Regions from separate parts of the Homo sapiens genome. Here region 1 is linked to region 2. Evidence: fine-mapped expression QTL. A gene starts in region 2. The other region holds a variant in brackets. All regions are shown on one strand. Distances are from middle to middle. Region 1 overlaps LPCAT1 (lysophosphatidylcholine acyltransferase 1). Region 2 holds the start of LPCAT1 (lysophosphatidylcholine acyltransferase 1).

Region 1 (5,000 bases), 28 kb before region 2:
AGGGCCCCGGCCATAGGCGACGCCCCTCGTCCCAGCAGCTCCTTCCCTCAGCACCGCCCACTGCCAACCCAGGACCCGCTGTGCCCCAGAACGTGCTGTGCTGTGCTGATGGCGGCTGTGAAGGAAGCACGAGGACAGAACGGGCCCAGATGCCCTGAAGAGCACCGAGGACAGAGCTCTGGTGGGTCAGGGCTGCGCACAGGTGGGTGAGGGGCCACGCAGGGCTCCCTACAGTCCTCCCAGAGCAGTGGGTCCATGGGATGCGGCCCCCAAAGATGGGTCCACATGCTGACCCTGGAACCTGTGAATGAGGCCTTATTTGGAAAAAGGTTTTTACAGAGGTAACTCGTTAAGGATCTCAAGATGAGAGCATCCTGGATCACCCAATGACTGGTCCTTATAAGAGACTCATAGAGGAGACACTTGGAGGGAGCCAGGCCAGTCGACCACTGAGGCAGAGTCAGAGGGACGCAGCCCCCAGAGGAGGAAGAGGCAGGAAGGGGCCGCACAGGGCCTTCGGCCCAGAGACGCCTTGATTTTGAACATCTGGTCCCCAGATGACGAGAGGGTGAATCTCTGCTGGAGTGAGCCCCCGGCTTTGGGGAGGGGTCATGGCAGCACCAGGTGCTCAGGTCCCTGGTTCACGGCACAGCCGCGGTGCATGGGCAGCCCTGCCGACCTGCTCCCAAAGACTTCCAGAACTGCCATCTGATAAAGGTGAGCCACCCTTGCCAAGCAGACCTGGAGCAAGCACTGTAGCCTGTTATGATAGTGAGGGCACTCAGGTAGCAATAAAAATAACAATTACAACAACGAAAATTACACAGGAAACCCCAACACAGAAAATGGGGCACAAGGCCAATGTGCCCGGCGGTGGGGGCTCGATCACTCCCAGCAGCGTGGTGGGGGGGGGGTCCCTCACTCCCGGTAGGGAGGGTCTCACTCATTTCCAGCAAGTGGGGGTCCCTCATTCCTAGCAGGGAGGGATCTCTCATTCCCAGAAGGGGGGGTCCCTAAAAACCAGCAGGGAGTCCCTCATTGCCAGCAACAGAGGGGGTCTCACTCATTCCCAACAGAGGGGGGACCCTCACTCCCAGCAGGAGGGGAATCTCTTATTCTCAGCAGCAGGGGGATCTCTCACTCCCAGCAGGGCAGGGTCCCTCACTCCCAGCAGGGGTGTCTCACTCACTTCCCCAGATCGGGATGTCTCTGCTCTCTGCCTTCATCACGATGGAGGACATCGTCATGGTCACAGGGATGGCGTCGAAGTAGGACGAGTGAGGCGCGAGCGTGAGGATGGCCGCCTCGGTGGGCAGCGCCTGCCGCCCCTTCACGGCCACCCGGTGGAAGCCGCCGGCGAACCACATGGTGCGCATGATGGCCTTCAGCAGGAAGTCCACAACCCTGCAAAAGAGGGCGCTGCGTCACGCGGGCACACGTCCGCAGTCTCGGAGTCTGTGTGAGGCACAGGGGCGGTCCCACGGGAGAGCCCTCCAGGGCGCAGTCCAGGCCACGGGCTTCCTGTGGTCGCCGCCGCTGGGACATCTGCTTGAGGGAAGAAAAGACGCCGCGCCTTCCTGGCCTCCGCCTGTGTCCTCGCTGGCTGCGCTCTCACCTACGAAGGAGGCCGCGGGGCCCTGTGTGGTGGTCACGGGCCACGCGGCAGGCAGTGCTAAGACAACATGAGACTCCGGAACACAGACAGCACAAGTCCCAGGCCAGAAGACCTCCGGACCTTCATGTTAGCAACTTATTTATCAGCATCCTATCATTTTGAAATGGGAAAAACATTAAAACACCTAAAACGCATATCGCAATATGGGGGGGGGGGCGCTCAGAGCTGAGGGCGGAAGCTGAGACCTGCGTGCGAACTTCCCCATCTCATCTCCACAGGAAGCCCGGGGTTCCCACAACCAGGCGTTGTGTTATTACAGTGAGCTGTTTCTGGAGGAAATTAGATGGCCAATAAATTTGGAAAATAAAGTAAAAATCAGCCTAGGTTAACTGAATTTGTGTACTCTTTATCTCTTTTTAAAATAGGTACAAATTTAGCCTTTTAAATGTGTGTATTCTCTTTCATATGAGGCTACAGATTAGGCTGTTATTCCACACCTCAGGGAATTGACACGCAGCAGACAGCCACGGTGTGTGAGAAGCCACAGGTCAGGCACACAGAGAACATGATTCAGCCTCATGAGAAGCCACGGCTCACTCGGCCACTGGGTTAAGTGGGCGCATCACACTGGGTAAAACTACTGCACAGAGAAACAAGAGCCTGAAGCCTTACTGGATTCACATTGCCCTGGGACAGATGATCCTCCCAGAAGACTTCCAGGACAGGGGTCCCCATGGATCTGAGCCAAGGCGGTTGCTAGGAGGGCACAAAGCCTCCTCTCGTGGGGCCACCTTGGAATGGCCTTTGTGTATGCGATGATAAACAATGGTGTAGTTACACATGGAGATGCTGGGGACCAACCCAGGGTGCTGCTTGTCTAGAGGAGGGGGGATTACACAGGTGTGCACTTCTTCACCACCTGTTCAGCTGCATATTTAAAAATGTACTTTTCTGGCCAGGCATGGTGGCTCACGCCTGTAATCACAGCACTTTGGGAGGCCAAGGCAGGTGGATCACTTGAGGTCAGGAGCTCAAGACCAGCCTGGCCAACATGGTGAAACCCTGTCTCTACTAAAAATACAAAAATTAGCTGGGCATGGTGGCAGGCGTCTGTAATCCCAGCCACTCAGGAGGCTGAGGCAGGAGAACTGCTTGAACCCAAGGGGCGGAGGTTGCAGTGAGCCGAGATTGCGCCACTGCACTCCAGCCTGGGCAACAGAGTGAGACTCCATCTCAAGAAAACTAAACTAAAAAATAAAGATGTACTCTTCTGTGCACATGTTATTTTCCACAAAAAAAAAAAAAAAGTACAAAAACAAAAGCCAAAAGACAGCAATTGATGCCTAAGATGGAAGAAACAAGGCAGCGGCGGAGGGAGAAG[C/T]GAGGCTGCAGAGGAGGCTGCGGCGGGCACAGGAGCCAGTCTCGGGCAGGTTCAGGGGCAGGAGAGAGGACAGCAGGAAAAAAGGGATTAAAACCCGGGCGGCCCTTAGAGGAACACACCTGCCAGCCCCGAAATCGAATTGCAGGGACAGACGGTGCTCAGGGGAACTGTACTGGGTGTCGGGGCAGGGAAAAAGCAGCCTCAGCTCTTCTCTAAAGATCTTGGAGGAATTTTATACCCAAACTATCCACATGTGAAAACCCGGACTGCTGGTGTGGATGACAGCCTCAGAGAAAAGCTCCGCTTGCTGTGGGGTTGGGGACCCAGCACCCACTCACCCCAAGGCAAAGGGAGCCAGCACAAGCCCAGGGTGCTCAGGTGCCTGGGCAGCCCATTCCCAGGGGAATGTGAATCAGGAGACAGATCTATCTGCATACACAGGAGCGGGGATCTCCATCAGCACCCCCAGGAAATCCACTCCGTCCTACCGCCCTCACACGGACGACACCCAAGAATCCTGAGACGTGTGAGCAGAGCAGCTGCATGGCAGAGAAGCAGAGGACTGACCCCAAGGAGACAGAAAGGGTGGGCATCAGAAGAGGGGTGCAAAACATCCACCACGCTCGCCAAGAGAGTCTGGAAGAACAGGGCGCTGAGGAGCATCAAAGAACAAGAAAACACTCTCAGAAACCAAGACTGTCACTGTGGAGACAAGCAACTCACAGGAAAGACTGGGAAATGAGGAGGAGGAAATCTCCCAGAACATGCAGGGGGAAAAGGAGGAAGGCCGCTGAGGCCTGCATCTCCTCAAGCCAGCTGGCATGTGGAGGTGGGTGGGGGAAGCCCACACGTCTAAGCGTGAGGGGCAGGCGCAGGCCCCGGCTCTGCAGGTTCCAAATGTTCTGCTGTGAGCAGAGGCAAGAGGCAGAGTGGAGCCGGCCCTGGAGAGGACCTATACACATGTACACAGCCTGAGTGCTGGCTACGGTGCCAGGCCGGTGGGGTAGGGCAAAGGAAGGGGCCCTGGGGCCACGTCTGGCGGGGCTTCAAGGAGGCAAGTCTGGTGATCCACGTGGACTGGCTTAGCTGGGTCAGGGACGGCCCCTGGGTGGCTGGTGGGAGGGCTGTGTTGGGCTGGCAGGTGTGGAGGGGCAGCCCCAGGCTGAGACGCAGGTGGCAGGAGCTGCTGGCTTCTGGGAGACCAGATAAAGTGGTTTGATGCTCAAGTTCAAGCTCCAACCTCCAGGCCAACATACGGGGAGTACCTAGAGTCATCATGGGGATGGCATCCCCAAACTTGGGAACAGGTGTTCCCACACAGAGCATTCAGGAAAGGGCACCATCCATCTGAACCATCCGGTCAGCCAAGGGGCAGCCCCTGGAGGACCTGGCCCAGCTCAGGACTTGGCCCGTGGTCAAGGATTCAGCGCCAGATGGTCGGGTTTTGCAAAACGATGCTACGGTTTTTACAACACTGTGTGTGTTGAAAGTAACCTAAAATAGTGCCTTTTGCGAAACTGTGTCATTCTTTCACTGAAAGCCTAAGATTTTTATTTTAGGAAGGTTTGAATGACACTAACTTACATTCAGCAAAAATGCTTTAACTCAACATCAATCTATTCAAAACTGCAGAGCAGTGCATAACGTGAGCCAACTTAAGTCCCAAACCGACTACGTAATTATTATTCAGCGGTACACTCTGAATCTGCTACTTCAAATTCAGTTTCCTCCTGATCCCTTACGTCCCTAACTACGGTGCTTTTGTGACTAGGTTTCCCCTTGGGGAGTTCAGAATTCAGGGTTTGTTCTCTCTTCTGTTTCCCTTCAAGCACCAAGCCAAGCCCAGGACTGTGCACCAAGGGAGCTTTCATCAGTGCTGCTGAAGGAGACGCCAGGGGCTCCAGGGGTGGGATTCAATGCCAGGCAGCACGGGCAGCTTGAGTGCCCACAAGCATCCGTGCATACTCCCACACATGCACACATTCACACACATACACAGACATC
Region 2 (5,442 bases):
TACCATACCATTTACCGCTCTCTACTAAATCTATATCCTTGCTTTAGCCAGAGGATTAAAACATTGCACGTATTACAGACCCTGATGGCTTTGATACCTCTTTTCAGATCTTAATGTGCTGTTTTCTGTCCAAAGAGATACTTAAGCTCCTCACTAAATCTGTAGTTAAATGACAGATGGGCTGGCTGGAGGAGGAGGTGTCCCCGCATGGCGCTAATCCGAAGACACACAGCAGCCCCTCCCAGGCGGCAAATGCTCACAGGTAAATGCAGGTACTCACTGGTTTATCTCAACTGGGAACTTAGCTGGGTTTCTGCGGGTTCTTGAGTGTGTCAGCCACTACTGGACCCATTTCTTTCTTTGGGGAAGAAGGCTTTCTTGGCTTGAAAGACAGGCTATTTCACTCTGTGGAAACTTTACAAGAATATATCACATCAAAGTAAAAGCTTTGCAAAGCAATGCTTGGTGAAAAGCAAAATGTTTCTGCAGAGAACTTTGAGAACGTTTACAAACTAAACCCTTGAGCCACACATTGCAGACATCCAGCAGAAACGACTGGATGTACAAACACACCTAATTCCTCAGATGGAACCTCTGAAGTGGCAACAAAGCAAGCCCCCTCTCTGAGAGGCCCCAACACCTCAAGCCAGGATCTCTGCCTGGCTTCGGCCCAAGGGAGAACAGCTGCCCAAAGCCTTCAATCTCGGGACCAGGAGCCTCTCGATGACCCCCTGCCCAAGAGCCACTGGGAGCAGCTTGCACCCTGAGGTCTCGGGGAGGAAAGCAGGCCCCTCTGGGCACTCTGGCAGTGCCCTGACATCTGTACCTACCCATGAGAGTCTCTGCCCTGCTTCTCGCCAGGGCAGTGGGTGCACACTTTTGGACAGAACACACCTCAACCGGGGGCTGCAACTATGACAGGGATGACGAAGTGGCCTCCGGGGACCTCCAGGGAGGGGCTTGATGTTTCCCCCCAGGGAGCCAGGAGGGAGTAGGAAAGGCAGGAAGAGAGAGCATGCCTGAGGCAGCCATAGCTGGGGCAGGAGCAGGGCTGGGGAAGCCCTGGAAACCACAGCAGGGGTTCGAATTTCATCCGGGGGCGTCCCCGCTGAGGGCTTCCGAGCAGCAGAGTGCAGGAGGAAGAAAGCCTGCTGGGAGTGACTCAGGGAGAGTGACCAGGGAGAGAGCCTGGTGGCTGGGTGGGGGTGAGGATTGAAGAGGAGGAATGGTTGAGGGGCACAGAATGAGCGACCGTGTCCCAAGTCCTCCTTTGAGGGGCACAGCACACGGCAGCTGACAGCGTGTGGCAGACAGAGGGCCAGGCAGAGCGGCGGCAGAGGGGCCGGCACCGCCCCAGCCCCAGAGTCCAGCTCCCGACACACAGGGAGACGGGGGCCAGGGCCTGGGAGCCAGGCTGGGGACGACCTCACCCTGTGTGTCACCAGGAGGGGCGGCACCATCGGGCTCTCCTGCTCCCCGTCCCCTTCCATACCCTGAGGACCAGCCGCATCAAGGGGCTTTGAGCAAAAGCAGGCGTCCTGGGAAAATGACAAGCTCAAACTGGCCTCAAGAACTTTTCACTTCAGGGTTCTTTCAGATAAAGTACTTTATGCATTAACAAATCTCCATCTTCCCGGAAATCTATTCTCACAATTGGAAGCGTGCTCCCTACAAACCGGACAGCCCCATAGGCCCCGAAACAGTGCTTGCTTCTAGGAATTATTCTAGAGTCAAAAGTAAGGTCCTCTTGAGAGTGGATCTCAGGTAACTGTAAGCCCAGCTGGCAGCCAGGTAGCCGGAAAAGCCAGGCTGAGCCAGCACATCCCCGGTGCAGCTTCCTGCAGCGAGCGGCCCCCTCCCCACGACGCCCCCGGGTCTCCCCTCACCACTGTCCCATCGCAGGATCTCAGCAAACCGTTCCCTCCCACGTGGCAGCCCAGGTTGCATAAAGTTGATTCGGGTCAGACCAGCCCCGAGAAAGCATCCCTTACAACAGGAGCGAAGCATGCACCCCAGAAGGCAACGTGCGGCCGCAGAGCAGGGAGACCCGTGCGCCTACAGGGGACCCTACAGGGGACCCGCACCGCCCGCGCGCCCTGTCCCGGGCACCACCAGGCCCCGCACACGAGGCTCACCCAGAGCCGCGGTGCCCTCCCGCCCGCGGGCCGCGTCCAGGCAAAGCCGCTCCGGAGTCCCCGGGCTGCGCGCAGGGCCTGCCAAGGCGGGCGGGGCCCGGACCAGGGACGAGCGCGGGGACCGGCGATGCGGGTCCAGCCTCCCGCGGGAGCCGAGGTCGGGGCTCTGGGAGGCAGAGAAAGGGTTGTGGGCCCGGTTCAGGGTGCAGGGGTCTGGGGGGAGGAGCAGAACGCGGGGCGGGGATGGGAAGCGGGGACCCCGAGGAAGGCGCTGAGGGACCAGGATGCGCGTGCGGGCGGCGGGAAGCCGGCGCCGAGACCGAGGCATCGGGTGCGGGCGGCGGGGACGCGAACTGAGGGGCGGCCGCGGGGAGGGAAGGCGCCGCGGCTCGCAGGGCCGCGCCGCGCCCCAGGCCCCCTCCCCGGCCCCTCCTCGGCCGCGCCTCCCTGGCCCCAGCATCCCTGGCGTCCGCGCCGGCTCCCGGGGCCGCGCGCCCTGGGCACCCACCTGGGCCTTCTGCAGGGCGCTGAGGCGCAGCTCGTGCACGAAGGGGTTCCGCCCCGGGGGCGCCAGCAGCCGAGCGTCGCTGGCCCCTGCGCTGGAGGCAGGGGCGGCCCGGGGTCCGCATCCCCGCAGCCTCATGGCCGCGCCGTCCCGCGGCGAGCGCAGCCGAGCTGCCTGGGGCGCCGAGCGGGGCCGGGGCTAGCTGGGCGCGGGTCTCGGGGCGCGGGCCGAGGATGCGCGGCGGCTGGAGCGGGCCGGGCGCGCAGGCGCGGGAGGTGACGTGGGCGGAGCGGGAGCGCCGGCCGGGGCGGGGCGTCCCTGGAAGCCTCGCCTCCCGCCGGCCGGCAGGGGCGGCACCAGCCGGAGTTCCGCTACCTGGTGGTTTCTCTGGGGTCTGTGGGGGGCCGGGGCCGCTGGGGACCGGGGGCGCCTCCTGCAGCCACTGGAGCACAGGGATCCCCGGCAGGGTCTGCGCCAGGAGAAAGGGAGGTCCCCCGGGCCCGCGAGGCTGCCACGTCGTCCCCTTCCGCCGCTCGGCCCGCCTGCTCGCGGGGAGGGAGGAAGGGGCGGGCACGCGTCCAGCTTACGCGCAAGGCGGGCCAGGCCCTGGGTGCCGAGCCCCGGGCTGTTCCGGCGAAGGCCCCACGCCATTCTTCTTATTCGTTGGGCTCCTAGCTCGCACCGGCGACCCTGGAAGCTGCCCCGGGCTGAGGGAGCTTCTTCCAGCCGCGCCTCAGCCCAGGCGACTCCCGCCTGAGGTCCACTCGACCTTAGGACCCCCCAGACCTCGGGATCCCCTCAGATCTCAGGACCCCTCAAGCCTCAGGACCCCCTCAGACCTCAGGACCCCTCCGATCTCAGGACCTCTCAGGCCTCAGGCCCCGCAGGGATGGCCCAGGCAGGAGGCGCACATAGGGGCCCTGACTGTCCGTGCTGGTTGTGCAGGGGCTGCGATGAGATCCCAGCGCTTTCTCACCCGTAGCTGCTTTGGCTCGGGCATTGCCCTTGTGGTGCTCAGGAGCCGTGTGAGGAGCCCCAGGGTGGGGCCCATAATTAGCCGGAGCGAGAGTAGGATGGGCTCCTGCCTCCGGGTGAACACGCTTGGATTTCAGAACTCACGCAGGCCTTCGGTCACAGTGCTCACGGCTTCCTCACCCCGGCTGGCCCTGTTGGTTCCTTCATGGCCAACGGACCTCACCCAGACAGAGCCGGTTTGGGCCACCTGGCCAACCCCCCAGGGTCCTGGCTCCTGGGGATGTCACTGCTGTGTTGGCCCCAGCTGGGCCCCATCCTCAGCAGACGCCAGGGAGTGCCCCGACCCCTCCAATGACCCTGCCTGCGCCCTTGTGGACCTCATAGTGCAGCGGGCTGGCAGAGACCCTTCTGTGTCTGAGACCGGGGTGAGGGCCAGGGGTCTGTGCCATCCACATATCATGCACAGAGAAGGCCCCGGCAGGCCAGACCCGCTGCATGGCCTTATTCCTGCCCCATAAGAGTCCCAGCCCATATTCCTGCCCCATAAGAGTCCCAGCCCATGCCTAGCAGCAGCACCTGTCCCAAGTGCCACACCCACGGGGATGGGGTGAGCCCTGTGTGCTGGTGGGCATTGGTGGCTCTGTGGCCCAGCCACCAGCGTTGCACCCACCTCCTGGGCTTTTAGTGGCCACTTGCTCTGATCCCCAAAACCAGAGCCCAGCACCCGAGGCCACCCAAGGCTCCTCACCGAACTGATCATCAAGAAAGCCCAGGACACAAAGCCTGCCAGCCACAGGGCAGCACCTGCACCCCAGCGATCCAGGCGGCCCCACCTGCTGCCTGAGTGCTCTGGAGAGGAGGGGCCCTAGGGTGTCCCAGTCCTGGGATGAGAGCAGCCTCAGGACTGGACTTGGAGAGCCATGAAAGTGGGGTCCTCCCAGAAGCACAGGCCAGGAAGCGGTGTGTGGCGGAGGGGAAACCTGCTGGAGATGGTGCAGAGCCAGATTCAATGGGGAGAGCTGCCAGAGAGTCATGGCTGTGTCCCCAGAAGATGCAAAAGTCCTAACCCACAGCACCTGTGGCCGCGACCTTATTTGGAAACAGGGTCTTTGCAGATGATCAGGTTAAGAGGAAGTCATTAGGGTGGGCCCTAGTCTGAAATGGCTTGTGTCCCTATAGAGAGGGAGATTCGGTCTCAGAGACAGACACAGAGAGAGCTCCATGGGAAGGCCAGGGTTCTGCTGCTACAGGCAAGCAGTTCCCAGGAGCTGGAGAGGCCTGGAGCAGGTCCTCTCTAGTGCTCTCAGAGGGAGCCTAGGCCTAGGGTGCCATGATCGCAGGCTTCTGGCCTCCAGACTGGGAGAGAATAAATTCCTTCTGCTTTAACCTGCAGAGTGCAAAGTGAGTTGGAACCCAGGGAAGGAGGTGGGGAGGCTGGGGGAAGAACCTCATACTGCCCGGCAATCTAAGCAGGGTCAGCAGGTTGTCCTTGAGCCAAGGTCGGTGGAAAGAGGAGTCCCTCTCCCAGAGGGGTCTTAGGTGGAGCCACTGTGGGCAGCGTGGCCTTGGTGTAGAAGCTCAGTGGATCCTTGGGTCACAGGCACCATGTGGAGGAGGCGCAGAGGCCCAGCTCCGGGGTCAGTACACAAGGGGGCACAGCTGGGAGGGTGGGTGTGACAGGGCCAAGGGCTGTGCAGAGCAGGGGGCAGGACTGGGGCACACTCGTCCTCACCAAGCAGAACCCAAGAAGGCCCCAGAGAGCGGCCAAGGAGCGGAGGTCCCCAGAGGGGCTGAGTCCACGGAACTGCCCCATCCAGGAGGACTGGC

The links. PIP is the estimated chance that this variant, and not a neighbour inherited with it, causes the effect.
Region 1: its variant is fine-mapped to the expression of LPCAT1 in whole blood (TOPMed, PIP above 0.99).

Annotation. Positions count from the first base shown.
Region 1 is chr5:1,493,511-1,498,510 of GRCh38, forward strand. It overlaps LPCAT1 (lysophosphatidylcholine acyltransferase 1), which reads right to left. Exons shown (of 14, transcript NM_024830.5): 3 at 1,190-1,404. It overlaps LOC124901162 (a long non-coding RNA gene), which reads left to right. Exons shown (of 2, transcript XR_007059103.1): 2 at 1-2,009. Among named protein-coding and RNA genes, the nearest start is that of MIR6075, 15 kb to the right of the region's middle. RefSeq lists an enhancer at 427-1,626. The variant C/T (reference allele first, on the strand shown) is at 2,997.
Region 2 is chr5:1,521,067-1,526,508 of GRCh38, forward strand. LPCAT1 (lysophosphatidylcholine acyltransferase 1) reads right to left here and starts at 2,894. Exons shown (of 14, transcript NM_024830.5): 1 at 2,644-2,894. The coding sequence starts at 2,778. RefSeq lists an enhancer at 417-921, silencers at 2,082-2,281, 2,552-2,861, 2,882-3,281 and a cis regulatory region at 4,051-4,286.